Regions from separate parts of the Homo sapiens genome. Here region 2 is linked to region 1. The links come from fine-mapping of genetic effects on gene expression. Tissue or cell type: monocytes after interferon gamma. Region 1 holds a variant in brackets; the other region holds the start of a gene. All regions are shown on one strand. Distances are from middle to middle.

Region 1 (7,700 bases):
CAGAAATTTTGAATATCTATCATTTATTGCATTAATTGTACCATTCAATTTAAATTTGCAATCCTCCAAATATATTGTTAAGCAATGATCTGTAAGAAGGAACGTTTTGTATCTTACGGAAAAGTAAGCCCCAGAAATGAAAAAATTACAGCAAAGAAATCTATAATTGTGTTTATATTACATGAGTGATTTGCTGTTTCTCCAAAATAGCATGTAAGTCAGTGATTCTCAAATGTGCAAAGTATTTCCATGTGCTTAACAAGAAAACTATCCAAAACAAACACTGTTTAAGAAATTTCTTATTATTTTATTTCCTTTCCATCTGTTTTTGTCCTTCTTTTTGGGTCCCACTCACCTTCTTTCTTTCAGTTGCCTGGCTATTGCTCACAGTAACACTTCTAAAAGAATAAGGCAACAAAATTAGATACTCAGTGGGGAACTCTAGCCCAAAATATTACTTGACAGTGACATAGTCCAGAGTTAAATATTTATAGACATTAACTCTTAAAGAGACTAATACATGTCTCAATGCAAATACTAAATATACTATGGTATCTTTTACCTAGTCTTAAAGATTATCATTCAATATTTATCAAAAGGAAAACATCTTATTAAGATTATATAGTCCTCCAGAAAAGTCAATACTTTAATTATTATAAGCCTTATTTTTATATGTGTTTTTATGTGACATATATAGAGTAAATACATCTATAGGGGATATGTTTATGAAATCCCATGAAGCAAGAAAAAAATCTGAAAGCAACAGTACATAACGCCACAACATGAAGTAAAACAAAAAAATTAACACGGTATCACCATTTCTTATAACAAAGATGCTTAAGTAGTCATTCCTCAGAGAGGTATTATTGAATTACATGGCAATAAAAGCTTGAGGAAAATTATATAAAACTTGAGGGAATCATATAAAAATAAATTCAGGCTGTAACTATTTTTAAAACACAATGAAAATCTAAACTACCAGTTCATGCTAAAGCCCAAAAAGGGTGACAAAATTAGTAAAGTTAAAGCCCTGCTGGGCCCTAAAAATACAGAAAGATGAACACAAAGAGAAAATCTTAAAAGCAGCAAAAGAGAAAATACTTATCACACACAATGGACCCTCAATGAGACTAACAGCTGACTTAGCATCAGAAACCATAGAAGTCAGAAGGTAGTGGAACGATATATTCAAACGGCTAAAAGAAAAACACTAAACCAAGAATTCTTTATCCAAATAAACTACCCTACAAAACTGAGGCAGAATAAAGACATTCCCAGGTAAAGACTGAGGAATCTGTAAAAATAGTAAAGATGTCCTGCAGGCTAAAAGGAAATGATACCAAGCAGTAACTCAAATTCTCACAAAGAAATGAAGAATACTCAAGAGGTAATTACATAGACAAATCTAAAAGACTGAATAAAAACTTTTCTCTCTTTATTCCTCTTAACAAATTTACAAAACAGCTACAAAAAAAAACCTGTAAAACTGTATGGTTAATCTTACAGCATATAAAATATAATACATATGACAATGGCACTCTCCAGGAGAGGAAAAGGAATGAAGCTATACAGAATTAAATATTCTACATATTACTAACACTGAATTAGTATTAATATGAAGTCAATTGTAATAAGTCAATATGCATATTGTAACCCTAGGTCAACCAATATAAAAACACTTAAAAATATGCATAGTAAAAAGAAAATAATTTAAATGTGCACAAGAAAATATCTATTTAACACAAAAAAGAGCAATAAATGAGGAAGAGAAGAACAAAAAGCACCATGAGAAATATACAAAACAAACATTAAACGTAAATAGCTTGAACACTATAAAAACAAAGACTATCCAAATGAAAAACATCCAGCACACATTAGAATCAAAGATATAAAATAGGTTGAAAGCAAAAGTGTGAAACAAGATAAACAATGTAAACAATAACCATAAGAGAGCTGAAGTAGCTGTACTAAAATAAAACAAGTCTTTTTTTTTTTTTTTTTGAGACGTTGTCTCACTCTTTCACCCAGGCCAGACTGCAGTGGTGCGATCTTGGCTCACTGCAACCTCCGCCTCCTGGGTTCATGCCATTCTCCTGCCTCAGCCTCCTGAGTAGCTGGAACTACAGGTGCCCGCCAACACACCCAGCTAATTTTTTGTATTTTTAGTAGAGACGGGGTTTCACCGTGTTAGCCAGGATGGTCTCGATCTCCTGTCCTCATGATCCGCCCGCCTCGGCCTCCCAAAGTGCTGGGGATTACAGGTGTGAGCCACCGTGCCCGGCAAATAAAACAAGTCTTTAAGACAAAAACTGTTACTAGAGACAAAAGCATTTCATAATGATAAAAGGGTCAATATCATGAAGATATAAAAATTATAAACATACAAAAGGAGTCTCAAAATACATGAAGCAACGCTGGACAGAATTGAGAGAGAAATAAACAATTCAACAATAATAGTCAGAGATTTCAAAACTCCACTCAATAATTGATAGACAAACTAGACAGAAAATCTGTAAGGACACAGAAGACTTCAACATAACCATCAAGCAACATGATGTAACTAACATCTAACACATTCTTCCCAAATATAGAATAAAATTTCAAGTACTTGTGGAACATTCTCCACAATAAAAAATATATTTGGCCATAACATAAGTAACGGTAAATTTTAAAAATTGGGATCATACAAAGCATGCCCTCAAACCAAAGTGGAATTAAATTAGAACAACAACCTCTAAATAATCCATGGTCAAACAAGAAATCACAAGAAAAAATTTAAAAATGTATCCAATTGTATGAATATGAAAATACAACATATTATTGTAGCAAAAGCAGTATGTAGAGGTATTATAGCTTTAAATGCCTATTTTTAGAAAAGAAGAAAGACCTCAAATAAATAACCCAAGTTTCCACCTTAAGAAATTAGGAAAAGAAGAGCAAAGCTTATAAGCAGAAGGACAACCATAAATATTAGAATGGAGATCAATGAAATGGAAATCAAAAAAAATTTTTTAAAAATTCTTAAAACCAAGGTTGATTCTTTGAAAAGATCAACAAGACTGTCACACCGCTAGGTTGATGTGCCAAGGGAAAAAAAAGAGAAGGAACAAAACTACCAAAATAAGAAATAAAAGAGTGAACGTGATCCTGACCCTACAGAAATTCAACTTAGAAGAAACTGACCAATTTCTAGGAATACTCAAAATATCAAGACAAGGAATGAAGGAAAAAGAAAAAGGAATAGGAGAATGGGGAAGGGGAGGCAAGGGGAGGAAAGGAAGAGAGGGAGGGAAAAGAGAGGAAGGAAAAAGAAACGGGGATAGAAAAAGGAAGTGTGAATAGGCTTATTATTAGTAAAGAAATTGAAACAGTATTTGGAAATCCTCTCATTAATAAAAGCCAAAACCAGATGGTTCACTGGTAAATTCCATCAAATATTTCAAGAAAAAATAATACCAATGGTTCAGAAACTCTTCTAGAAAGCAGAGGACAAGGGAATATTTTCCAAAACATTTTATGGGGTCAATATTATCCTCATACTAAAGTCTAACAAAGCCACACTAAAACAAGGATGAAGCACAAAAACTTTACACTAAGTCAAAGAAGCTAGGCTCAAAAGACTACATTTTGTATTATTCTATTTATAGAAAATGTCAAAAAAGATAACTATACAGAAACAGAAAGTAGAGAAGTGGTTGCCTAGGGCTC[G/A]GAGTGAAAGCAGAAGTAACTATCAACTATCACAAGGCATCTTCTGCAGGTGATAAACTATTCTAAAACAAGATTATGGTTGCAGATCTCTTTAATATTACTAAAAAATTATTAAATCATATGCTTAATGTGAGTGGATTTTATTGTATGTAAATTATACTTCAATAACTGTTTAAGAAAAAACCGGTTCAGTGACTAGATCAACAACATCTACCTAGACTAATCAAGATTAAAGGCAGAGTGCTGGGAATTTGCTAAAAATTAGCAGTGTAACTCTTATAGGCATTTAAAGAATTAAGAAAATATTATAAACAACTTTATGTCAACAAATACACTTTAGATGAAATTCTCAAATTCTTTGAAAAATACAACTTACTAAAAAAAATAGAGAAAAGCTGAGTAGATTTTTTAACTGAGTTTATAAAAAACCTATATACAAACAAATTAGAGTCCCAGATGGTTTCACTACTGAACCCTATAGAAACACATAAAAAAAAAACATTAATTTCATACAAACTCTTTCAAACATAAGGTAGTAGACCCCACTTTCAAGTGAAGCCAATGACGCTAACAAAACCATTGCTAGCATTACTGATAAAAACATTATATTACTCCAAAGCTAAACAAAGACATCTACAGGAAAAGTATAGAGCCATATCCCTGATGAATACAGACACAAAAATCCTTAATAAAAATATTATCAAATTGAATTCACATATATCATAACCATGTAGAATTTATCACAAGAATGCAAAGTTAATATATAAAAATGAATCAATTTAAATCACTAACAGTATAAAGAAGAAAAATGATATTTAATAAACACAGAAAAAGCACTTGACAGAATTCAACATCTACTCATAACTTTTCAAAAATTTCAGTACTCTAGAAATGGAAGGAACTTTCCTCAATCTGATGAAAGACATTCATGAAAATTCTACAGCTAGTATGACATATAATGTCAAAAGACTAAATGATTTCTCTCTTAGGTGGGGAATAAGGCACTGCAATAGGGCAAGTAACAGAAATAAAAGGCAGAGAAGTAAAACTGTCTCTAAATGCAGTTAACACAATTGTTTATATAAACAATCCTAAAAAATCTAAAAACGACTACTCAATAAGTAAAATAGAAAAGCTCATCGCACGCAAGCCCAATGTAAAAATATACATACCAGGATTAAGCAATAGAAAATGAGATTTGAAATAACTATTTCCTTGAAAAGAGCATCCCACACATAAAATACTTAGGGAAAAAAATGACAATAAGTCTAACACAAACCACTGAAAACTACAAAACATTGCTGAGATAAAGAGGCCCTAAATAAATGAAGCATACCATGTACATGTAGTGGAAGACTCAGTATTTTAGATCTTAATTCTCCCCACATTGATCTATAGATCCAATCAGAATATCAATTATACTTTTACCAAGAATTTTTGTAAAAACTGACAAACTGAATCTAAAATGTTAAGGATATGCAAAAAGCAATCTTGAAAAAGAAAAAGAATTGGAACACTTATACTACCTTAATTCAAGAATTACTATAGTAATCAAGATAAGTTATTGAAACAGAATAAGGAAAACAGAAATAGACCTAAACTTATATGCAGTCAATTGATTTTCAACAAAGGCACCAAATATGTGAAAGCAATCCAATGAAGAAAAGTATTCTCTACAAATACAACTAAATGTTCACATGCAAAAAAGAAACCCAAACAGGTACTGTATACCATACATAAAAATTAATACAAGATGGATCAGGAACCCAACTATAAATGCAAAAACTACAAAGTTTCTAAACAGGAGAATTATCGTTGTGACTTGGGGGAAGGAAAAGGTTCCTTAGATAGGACACAAAAATTACCTTAAAAGAAAAACATTCATAAATCTGACTTCATCAAAATTTATAACTTCAGTTCATCAAAAAACATTACTAAGAAAAAGAAAAAGTGAGCCACAGACAAGAGAAATTATTCATAAAACAGATGTCTGACAAAGGACTTATGTTCAACACATTGTAAAACATTTTACAAATCAATAGTAAAAGCACAAACAACTCAATTTTTTTAATGGACATAAGATTTTAATAGAGTCATCACAAAAAGAGATATAAAAAAGGCAAACGAGGCCGGACGCAGTGGCTCATGCCTGTAATCCCAGCACTTTGGGAGGCCGAGACAGGCGGATCACGAGGTCAGGAGATTGAGACCAGCCTGGCCAACACGGTGAAACCCCGTCTCTACTAAAAATACCAAAAATTAGCCGGGCATGGTGGTGGGTGCCTGTAATCCCAGCAGCTTGGGAGGCTGAGGCAGGAGAATAGCGTGAACCCGGGAGGCGGAGCTTGCAGTGAGCTGAGGTCGCGCCACTGTACTCCAGCCTGGGCGACAGAGCGAGACTCCATCCCAAAAGAAAAGAAAAAAGGCAAACGAATGAATAAAAAATGCTGAAAACCATTAGTTCTCCAGGAAATAAAAATCTAAATTACAATGAGATACTATCAATCATCACCAAAATAACTAAAATTAAAAAGATTGACAACATTAAATATGACTGAAAGTGCTAGGATTACAGGCATGAGCCACTGTGCCCAGCCAGCTGCTTTACTAGTAATAGTCAAAAACTATAAACAGCTCAGGTATTCCCCAACAAGAGAATTGCTAAACAGATATACACACATTCCCTGACTTATGACGGTTTGACTTACAAGTTTTTGACTTCATGATGACGCAAAATCAACAGGCATTCAGTAGAAACTGTAATTCGAATTTTGATCTTTTCCTGGGCTAGCAACATGCAATAGGATGCTCTCTCATGATGCTGGGCTAATGTAAGTGTTCTGAGTACTTGTATTAAGGAAGCCTATACTAAATTATGATGTTCAGCAGGTTAGGTATATTAAATGAATTTTTGACTTATGGTATTTTCAACTTATGATGGGTTTATCTAGACATGCCCCATCAAATAAATTGAGGAGCATTTATATTCAAACAAATGGAATATTACATAGCAATATAAAGCAACTAATTCTTGATATACAAAACAACAAAAACAAGTCTCAAAATATTCTGCTGCTTCTCCTGCATATGACCATTATACAATAACAAGACCAGATTGACCATTCCCCACTTAAGCAACTAGAAAACTGAACAAAATAAGAATCAATGGTTTCCAGAAATTGAGTAACAGCCAGTACAGAACTGTGAGCCCCAAGGGAAGAAAAACAAATGAAATGAACCCTTTGATTGCCCTGGCTTCCTGCATGGGGGCCATTTCCAGGCTATAATACATAGAGAAGTAACCCAAACAGAGCCTAGGAATCAAGGAGACGAAAATCAGACTTCAGGGATCCCAGGGCAGCTATAATTTGCAGGGCAGATTACCAGAGAGGAAAATGCCACACAGAGAAAAAACTCTAAAGTGGGAGTTAACAAATATTTTCTGTAAGGAGCAGATAAGTATTTTAGGCTTTGCAGGCCATATGATCTGCATCATAACTATCCAATGATGCTATTATAATGTAAAAGCAGAAAAATATATGTAAATGAATGAGAATGGCTATGTTACAATAAAACTTTAATTACAGTAACAAGTAGCAGGTGGGATTTAGTCAGTTAGCTGCCGTTTGTCCACCTCTGCTCTAGAGAATTTCACAGTGATGTCCTCAACTTTTGTCTGGGTTTTGAGCTGCACATGAGTGGAAATTACTGAACACCAAGAAATGAACCTGGAAAGCAACGTATTAAACAATTCTCAAAGCTCATACAGAAACAGTTCATATATTCCCAATAAACAAGGTAAAAAGACCTCTCAATAAATACATATGGCATCAGATAGGGTCTTCAGAATAGTATCACCATGAAAGTGGAGCTAAATTAGCCTAACATTAAAATCTGTTCTTGTACATGCTAACAATGCTTAAAAGCAAGATTTGCAAGGATATAATAGATTATAGCTAACTTAACTGCATCCCCAAAGTCTTATAATATTT
Region 2 (7,700 bases), 110 kb after region 1:
TGAAATATATGCCATAAAAACTCAACAAACTATCAAAAAATTTTTCATTAAGAGCCAAAATGAGGCTGGACACGGTGGCTCACGCCTGTAATCTCAGCACTTTGGGATGCCAAAGCGGGTGGATCACCTGAGGTCGGGAGTTCAAGACCAGCCTGACCAACATGGAGAAACCCCATCTCTACTAAAACTACAAAATTAGCCAGAGGTAGTGGCGCATGTCTGTAATCCCAGCTACTCGGAAGGCTGAGACAGGAGAACTGCTTGAACCCGGGAGGCAGAGGTTGTGGTGAGCTATCACGCCATTGCACTCCAGCCTGGGCAACAAGAGCAAAACTCCATCTCAGGCCGGGCGCAGTGGCTCACACCTGTAATCCCAGCACTTTGGGAGGATCGAGGCGGCTGGATCACGAAGTCAGTAGTTCGAGACCAGCCTGGCCAACATAGTGAAACCCCGTCTCTACTAAAAATACAAAAATTAGCCGGGCATGGTGGCATGCGACTGTAGTCCCAGCTACTCGGGAGTCTGAGGCAGGAGAATCACTTGAACCTGGGAGGTGGAGGTTGCAGTGAGCCTAGATCATGCCACGGCACTCCAGCTTGTGTGACAGAGCAAAACTTCGTCTCAAAAAAAAAAAAAAAAAAAATCCAAGATGTTTTTCTTATCAGAAAAGCATCTGATAAGATGCTTTTAAACATCTTTTAAAATGCAAGATTTTAAAAAATAATATTAGCCAATATAGGCAAAGTTGTGTGGCAATAGGAATCTCCATACAGTTGTTGGTAACATAATTGACAAGATCTTTTTTTTTTTTTTTTTGTAAGATAGGGTTTCCCTCCTGGCTAACACGCTGAAACCCCGTCTCTACTAAAAATACAAAAAAATTAGCCGGGCGTGGTAGCGGGCGCCTGTAGTCCCAGCTACTCGGGAGGCTGAGGCAGGACAATGGCGTGAACCCGGGAGGCGGAGCTTGCAGTGAGCCGAGATTGCGCCACTGCACTCTAGCCTGGGCGACAGAGCGAGACTCCTTCTCAAAAAAAAAAAAAAAGGATAGGGTTTCCCTATGTTGTCCAAGTTGGTCTCGAACCCTCCCTCCTCAGCCTCCCAAGTAGCTAGGATTACAGGTAGGAACAACCATGCCTGTCTTGACATAATCTTTTTTGAGAACAACTGGGCCATATTTATCAAATTTAAAAGCCACAAACTCTGACCCAACAATTCTACTACTGGACATTACCTTGTGATTTTTACCTGTTATATCTTATGATATACTGGCCTAAATGCTCAAAGACATATATGTACATATATATGCATATTTATGGATGCTTACTCCAAGGAAAAACTGGATAATTAAATATTAATTTTAAAAATTGGGGTAAATAAATTATATTTGAACAATGGACTACTATCAAATTGTTAAAAGAGGAAAACATATGCATATTGATCTAGAGAGATTATCCAATATACATAATGAAAAAAGCAAGGAAATATATATATATACACACATATATATATGTTTATGCTATATTCCTGTTTATGCTAAAGGAAGAAAAAGTTTTCTACCCAAACACACCCATGTTTGTATATGCATAGAAAATATCCGAAAATATACACAAACAACCTAAAAGTTGTCACCTCTGGAGAAGTGAACCACAGAAATTTTTACCTTTCACTTAATAACTTACGTTGCTTTTATTATTAATAGCTTATATAATTTTAAATTTTTTAAATGATTGCCAAAAAAATCAGTGAGTTCTCTCCTCCATTCAGAAACAGCAGTGTGTTAGCCTAGATTAAAGTACTTCTTTAAAAGGATGATTAATTAGACAACATGCTAAAGAGTTCATATTAAGAAAATTACAACAGAGTCCTTATAATTAAAGCTGTATTTTCACATTTCATAGTGTACTGAAATCATTTAAAGCTAATCATTATTGTGCAAGTATTTCATAGCAGGCCAAATAAGTCCTGTTTTAATTTTATTTCTGCTTATCACCCATGCCACACAAAGAATAATAATAATAAAATAGCCAATATATAGTAAACAAATATTATGTGACAGAATACTAAATATCTCTAAATATTTTCCATATATTATTTAATACTTAAGGACCGTGATACAAGCAGCACTATTTTCTCTATTGTACCAACAAGAAGAACGGCTAACAAAGAGTTAGTCATTTCCCTAAGGCCACAGAGCCGGTAAGAGTAAAGAATGTGAAATCAGACAGGCTCATTCCAAAGCTTGTTCTCTCAGCCAATACGCTACAGCTTTTCACTCATTTTGTTCACATTTCAAGTCAAAAAAGGACTGTAAAATGTAGCCTGTTATCTAACAGGTTAGCAAATTAACCACATTAAATGCAACACCAGAATGAATTAGACAAAAGTCTTAACTCTTAGATCTTAACAAAAAGGGCTGAGGATACAACAAAAGCAATTTCAATTAAAATAAATATTTTATACTTGCCCAATTAAAATGCCATTTATGTTACTGAAATCGTATAATCTTCCCTGAATGGCTAAGTGCTGCTAGGCCAGAAAATTACATTTAGCATCCTTCTGGTAAATTACATTTAGTTAGTATCCTTCCCAAAAAAAAAAACAAACTCTCTTTCCTGTTCCACCATAACAAACCTGATAAAGAAAAATGGAGAGAAATTGAACGAAATCTCTCTAAAAACAGTCTATCTACAGTGTTTTTCCATGTAGAATTCCCTTTTCCATGCATTCTTCTTGATTACTTTTACCTTACTTCTAATCTTAAATCATTCAATCACAGCTCTACTATACTTCTTTGCAGAGTAAAGCAAAGGAAAATAAAGATCAATTAGAAAAGTTAAGTAAGCTAATAAATTCCATATAATAATTATAGCTACAGCTAATCATGCAATTTATGCTTACCTAAAGACCCTGTCATTGCTCTACATTTTTGTCAGCACTTGGGGGGTTGGGAGGAGACCTTGTCTACACACTGTAGATTATCCATTATTTTTTGCCTCCAATAAACCTGAAAGAAACTACAGGAATATATGCTCGCCATTACATGGCACCTTTTTATCTCAAAGTGCTTTCTAGAACCACCTTCACTAAACCACATCTGACAAGAAATCTGGCAAGAAACACTTTGACCAATCCCTGTTTCAAAATACACAAACTCAACCTCCCTCCTTCTGCCCCCTTCCCCTGAAAATGGGCGTTCTAAAGTCAGACTTCCTGGGTTCCAATTCTCTCAAGGCCCACTTAATAAGGGACCTTGAGCAGTCTCGATTTCCTTCCCTGTGAAATGGAAATACCAGTATCTACTTCATGGGACTGTTGTAGGAATGAACTGAGATAATTCATGGTAAGGCGCTTAGAACACTGTCTGGCACAAAATGTGCACTCAAATGCCAGCCATTATTATATCTTCAAAATTAACTACCTACAGTCCGGGTTTTCTTCATTTTAGTGATGGGAGTCTAACCGAACTCCATCAGGACAAGTGGGCATACACACAGGGTTTTTTAATTAACTCATACAATAAATAGCAGCAGTATATACTCAAGCAAATTTTAAGTTTTCATAGCACTTTCGCACTTTTTCAATAAAAACATTTCATATGAAATAAACACTCCAATCCCCCACGCTTTTAATCAGCGATGTCCAGAGCCCAGTAAACAACACAAAGCCTGGAAATACAGTCGGGATACTCATTGGCTATGGAAGGGGGAACCTGACAAACTGCTGGATGCCACACTGAGAACCCGCAGTTCAAAGCAGGCCAGAGCCGCTCGGGGCTAGCGGCTACAGTCTATTTAAAGTCACAACGCCTTCTTTTCCCATTTTCCTCCCCAGTGTTGAAACTAACAACGCCCTTTGCTCCCAAGACGAGGCCTAGCATCTCCCGGTCCTCTCCTCCCACCCAGCGCGTCTCTCCCCCAGGGAATCCACTGCCGCCCAACTCACAGAGTGTGTCCGCACACATTCACCATCAGCTTCAAGGAGGGGTTCCGATATTTGGTGGTCTTACACCGAGGGCAACCCTGATCGTCCATGGCGGTTTCCCTCCTACAGACTCTCGCAGGCGCCTGTTTCAGCCAGAGCCACCTACAAGCCCCCTCAGACGCGACCAAGCAGGTTCCTACCAACAGGCGCTTGGCAGAGACGGTCCCTTCGCGAAAGAGCACCGGCAAGGGGCGAGGCGCTGCAACACAAACGTTCCGGCAGTCAGTTCCCCCGGTCTTGCATCTAGGGCTTGGTCTTAGCCTTCCATAAAGCAACTTAATACCTTGAATTTGACAGGGGAACTTTTAAAATGGCAAATTATACAAAGCCTTATCTCCACGCACCCAGTTGCATTTTTCAAGGTACTGTGTCACAATTAGGAAGATAAATTCCATCTTGTTCTGTCTGGAAACATTCCCATGATTTCAAAGATTTATGAGCGGTGTACTTACTTTCTTTTGGACCATTTAATAGCCTGTGCTTTATACTTCTTTATAATTGCATAGTCATGTCAGCTCAGCTGATAATATGCATTCGCAGATACAAAATATGAAAAAGCTATCTACTCCATCAGACAGTATTTATTTCCCCAAATACCTAGGAAAAAATCATATAAGAATACATACAGAAAAATTTAGTTCTGCAATTCCAAGATCTGATAGCCTGAATATCTTTGTAAATTGTAAACCATGTTCATCACATTTATCAAGAAGGCAAATTGAAGTCTGTAAACAGCTCTATTAAATAATAAGCTTTCCCACTGTAAAGGACACATCTTATTCATCTCCAAAATAAAGATTTGTTGATTCTTAATGAGTAAGTAGACTAAGTGAAGAATTAATGAATGACTATCAAACAATAGTGTAATGTGAAAATTTTTAGTGTCAAACATTTTTTGTAACCACCTTCATCTGACCCAAACTCCATCAGAAGGGAACATGCAAACTAGATTTTTCAAATAATCTGATACAATGAGTATAAGCTATAAACATTTATAGTAATTTTAACTCATCATAGAACTTGTGTTCTTTTCAATAAAAAGTAATATTCAATTCACATTTTTAAACAGTGAACCTGGTAGGGAACCCAAAACCCAAAAATACAGTTGGGATTTCCATGGGTATAGAGAGGGATGCTGACAAACAGCTGGATACCACACCCAGGAACCAGCAGATCAAAGCAGGCTGTGACAGAGCTTTACATTAGTATGAAGACATCAAGGATTCATCTAATAAATAAACCATATCATCTCTTTGATCATAATATTGTTCCTCAACAGGAGTTAACCAAACATAAACTTACTAAAATAGGTAACACCAAATACTATGCTACTATGCTGACCCGGAGGCTTATTATGCTGCTGCTATTGTCTTATTGAAAGACCACATCCAGACCAGTTACATGATTCAGAGTGAAGCTCTTCAAGAACAAAGGCAACTCTAGTACTTTATATTTTGGACCATTTAATAGCCTGTGCTTTATACTTCTTTATAACTGCATAGTCATGTAAGCTCAGCTGATAACATACAAGAAACTTCTGGTGAAAGAATGAATATGTCATATGTGCAAATAAAATTTTTAGCCAATACTACATTGAGGTCATCCACTCAGATGGCATTATAGTTTATTGCCACTAGGACAATTTTTGTGTGTTTGTTTGTTTGTTTTGAAACAGGATCTCCTTCTGTTGCCCAGGCTAGAGTGCAGTGGCCCGATCACAATTCATTGCAGCCTTGAACTCCTGGGCTCAAGTCATCCTCCCACCTCAGCCTTCTAAGTAGCTGGGACCTCAGGCACTAGCCACCAGTCCCAGCTAATTTTTTATTTTATTTTTTTAAGAAATGGGATCTCACTATGTTGCCCAGGCTGGTCTTGAATTCCTGGGCTCAAGCAGTCCTCCTACCTCAGGCTCCCAAAGTGCTGGGATTACAGGCATGAGCCTGTAATGATGCCCAGCTATCCAGGACAGTTTTAATTACGTCTTTGAAGATGAGACCCCAACCACGTTGCGAAGTGAATTGCTTTTCCTTTCTCCCAAAACTTAAGATTAAGGCAAAGAAAGCACTAAAGATTGTGAGAAGCAGCAATGCTACAAGCTTTATCCTTTTCCTAGGTGGGAAACTACTAACTTGGAAGCATGGTAGCAACAGCTGACTTGGAAATCTGTCAGATAAGCTTTACTTATGGACCTAAAGACAGTAGAAAATAGCACTTATAGATTTGGTCTCTAGTACCAAGAGAGCTGAATTCAAGTGCTGGCTTCATCACATGATTTATATGACCTTGAGCCTCAGTTTTCCCAATTCTAAGTTCAGGATAGTACTTGTAAAGAATAAAAGATACTTCATTTAAAACACCTAGCATAGAGTAAGAGCTTAGTAACTGCTGGCCATTATTAATGGTAGCATTAGGATACTGGCAGTAGTATTATCTAAAAGAGGCGGGACAATATAATAATAAGAGCCCAACCTTCTTTTACATCAGTCAGACCTGTGTTTGAAGCAAATTTCCAATCCTCCCGTTCCTGTTTCCTTCTTGCATATAATACACTTCATAAAATTGCTGTAATGATTAAATTACATGACATAGACATACATAAAGGCCCTAATACAATGCCTCATACATTACAGAAGCTCTGAAATGTACATCATTATCACTGGTGGGGATGAATAACATGGAATGGTCAGAGAGCTTTGAGGAGGAAAGCACTGACGGCACCAGGTTCCTAATTCAAATGGAACCTCAGCCTATGTAGAAAACCACCAAACTCAAGTTTCCTACATTTCTTTTTTTTTTTAGGAGAAAATAATTTATCAACCATAACATATAATTTTGAAAGGTTAAAAACACATTCGTCTCAACACAAAAATTCAATCATGCTTAAGTTCCTTCCAACGTGTTCATCCAAGGTGAACCTTCATATGTTTACAAATTCTTTTTCTTTATGAATTTTTGTTGACTAAGAACAAATTTTTTTCATTTTCTGAACTTCAAAATTATGCATTTTTCTATATGCTATACATATGAAACTTACGCTTCCTATGTATTGTTTTTGTTTTACTACTTTATTTTTTTTAGGTTTTTTATTATTATACTTTAAGTTATAGGGTACATGTGCACAACATGCAGGTTTGTTACATATGTATACATGTGTTGTGTTGGTTTGCTGCACCCATTAACTCGTCATTTACATTAGGTATTTCTCCTAATGCTATCCCTCCCCCATCTCCCCACCCCACGTCAGGCCCCGGTGTGTAATGTTCCCTGCCCTATGTCCAAGTGTTCTCAGTGTTCAACTCCTACCTATGAGTGAGAACATGCGGTGTTTGGTTTTCTGTCCTTGTGATAGTTTGCTCAGAATGATGGTTTCCAGTTTCATCCATGTCGCTACAAAGAACATGAACTCATCCTTTTTCATGGCTGCGTAGTATTCCATGGTGTATATGTGCCACATTTTCTTAATCCAGTCTATCACTGATGGACATTTGGGTTGGTTCCAAGTCTTTGCTATTGTGAATAGTGCTGCAATAAACATACATGTGCATGTGTCTTTATAGTAGCATGATTTATAATCCTTTGGGTATATGCCCAGTAATGGGATGGCTGGGTCAAATGGTATTTCTAGTTCTAGATCTTTGAGGAATCGCCCCACTGTCTTCCACAATGGCTGAACTATTTACACTCCCACGAACAGTGTAAAAGCATTCCTATTTCT

Alleles and levels. Positions count from the first base shown, and alleles are read on the strand shown. Sizes are in standard deviations (SD) of each study's normalised expression.
For the expression in monocytes after interferon gamma of the gene that starts at base 4,137 in region 2, allele G in region 1 goes with a lower level than allele A (large effect, 0.85 SD a copy in Fairfax 2014).

Evidence for each region. PIP is the estimated chance that this variant, and not a neighbour inherited with it, causes the effect.
Region 2: MNAT1 starts here. The variant in region 1 is fine-mapped to the expression of MNAT1 in monocytes after interferon gamma (Fairfax 2014, PIP 0.95).

What each region holds. Positions count from the first base shown.
Region 1 is chr14:60,841,705-60,849,404 of GRCh38, reverse strand. The region is part of intron 6 of MNAT1 (MNAT1 component of CDK activating kinase); the gene reads right to left. Among named protein-coding and RNA genes, the nearest start is that of MNAT1, 110 kb to the right of the region's middle. The variant G/A (reference allele first, on the strand shown) is at 3,709.
Region 2 is chr14:60,731,198-60,738,897 of GRCh38, reverse strand. It overlaps MNAT1 (MNAT1 component of CDK activating kinase), which reads right to left and starts at 4,137. Exons shown (of 8, transcript NM_002431.4): 1 at 3,947-4,137. The coding sequence starts at 4,035. RefSeq lists enhancers at 3,844-3,913, 4,024-4,123.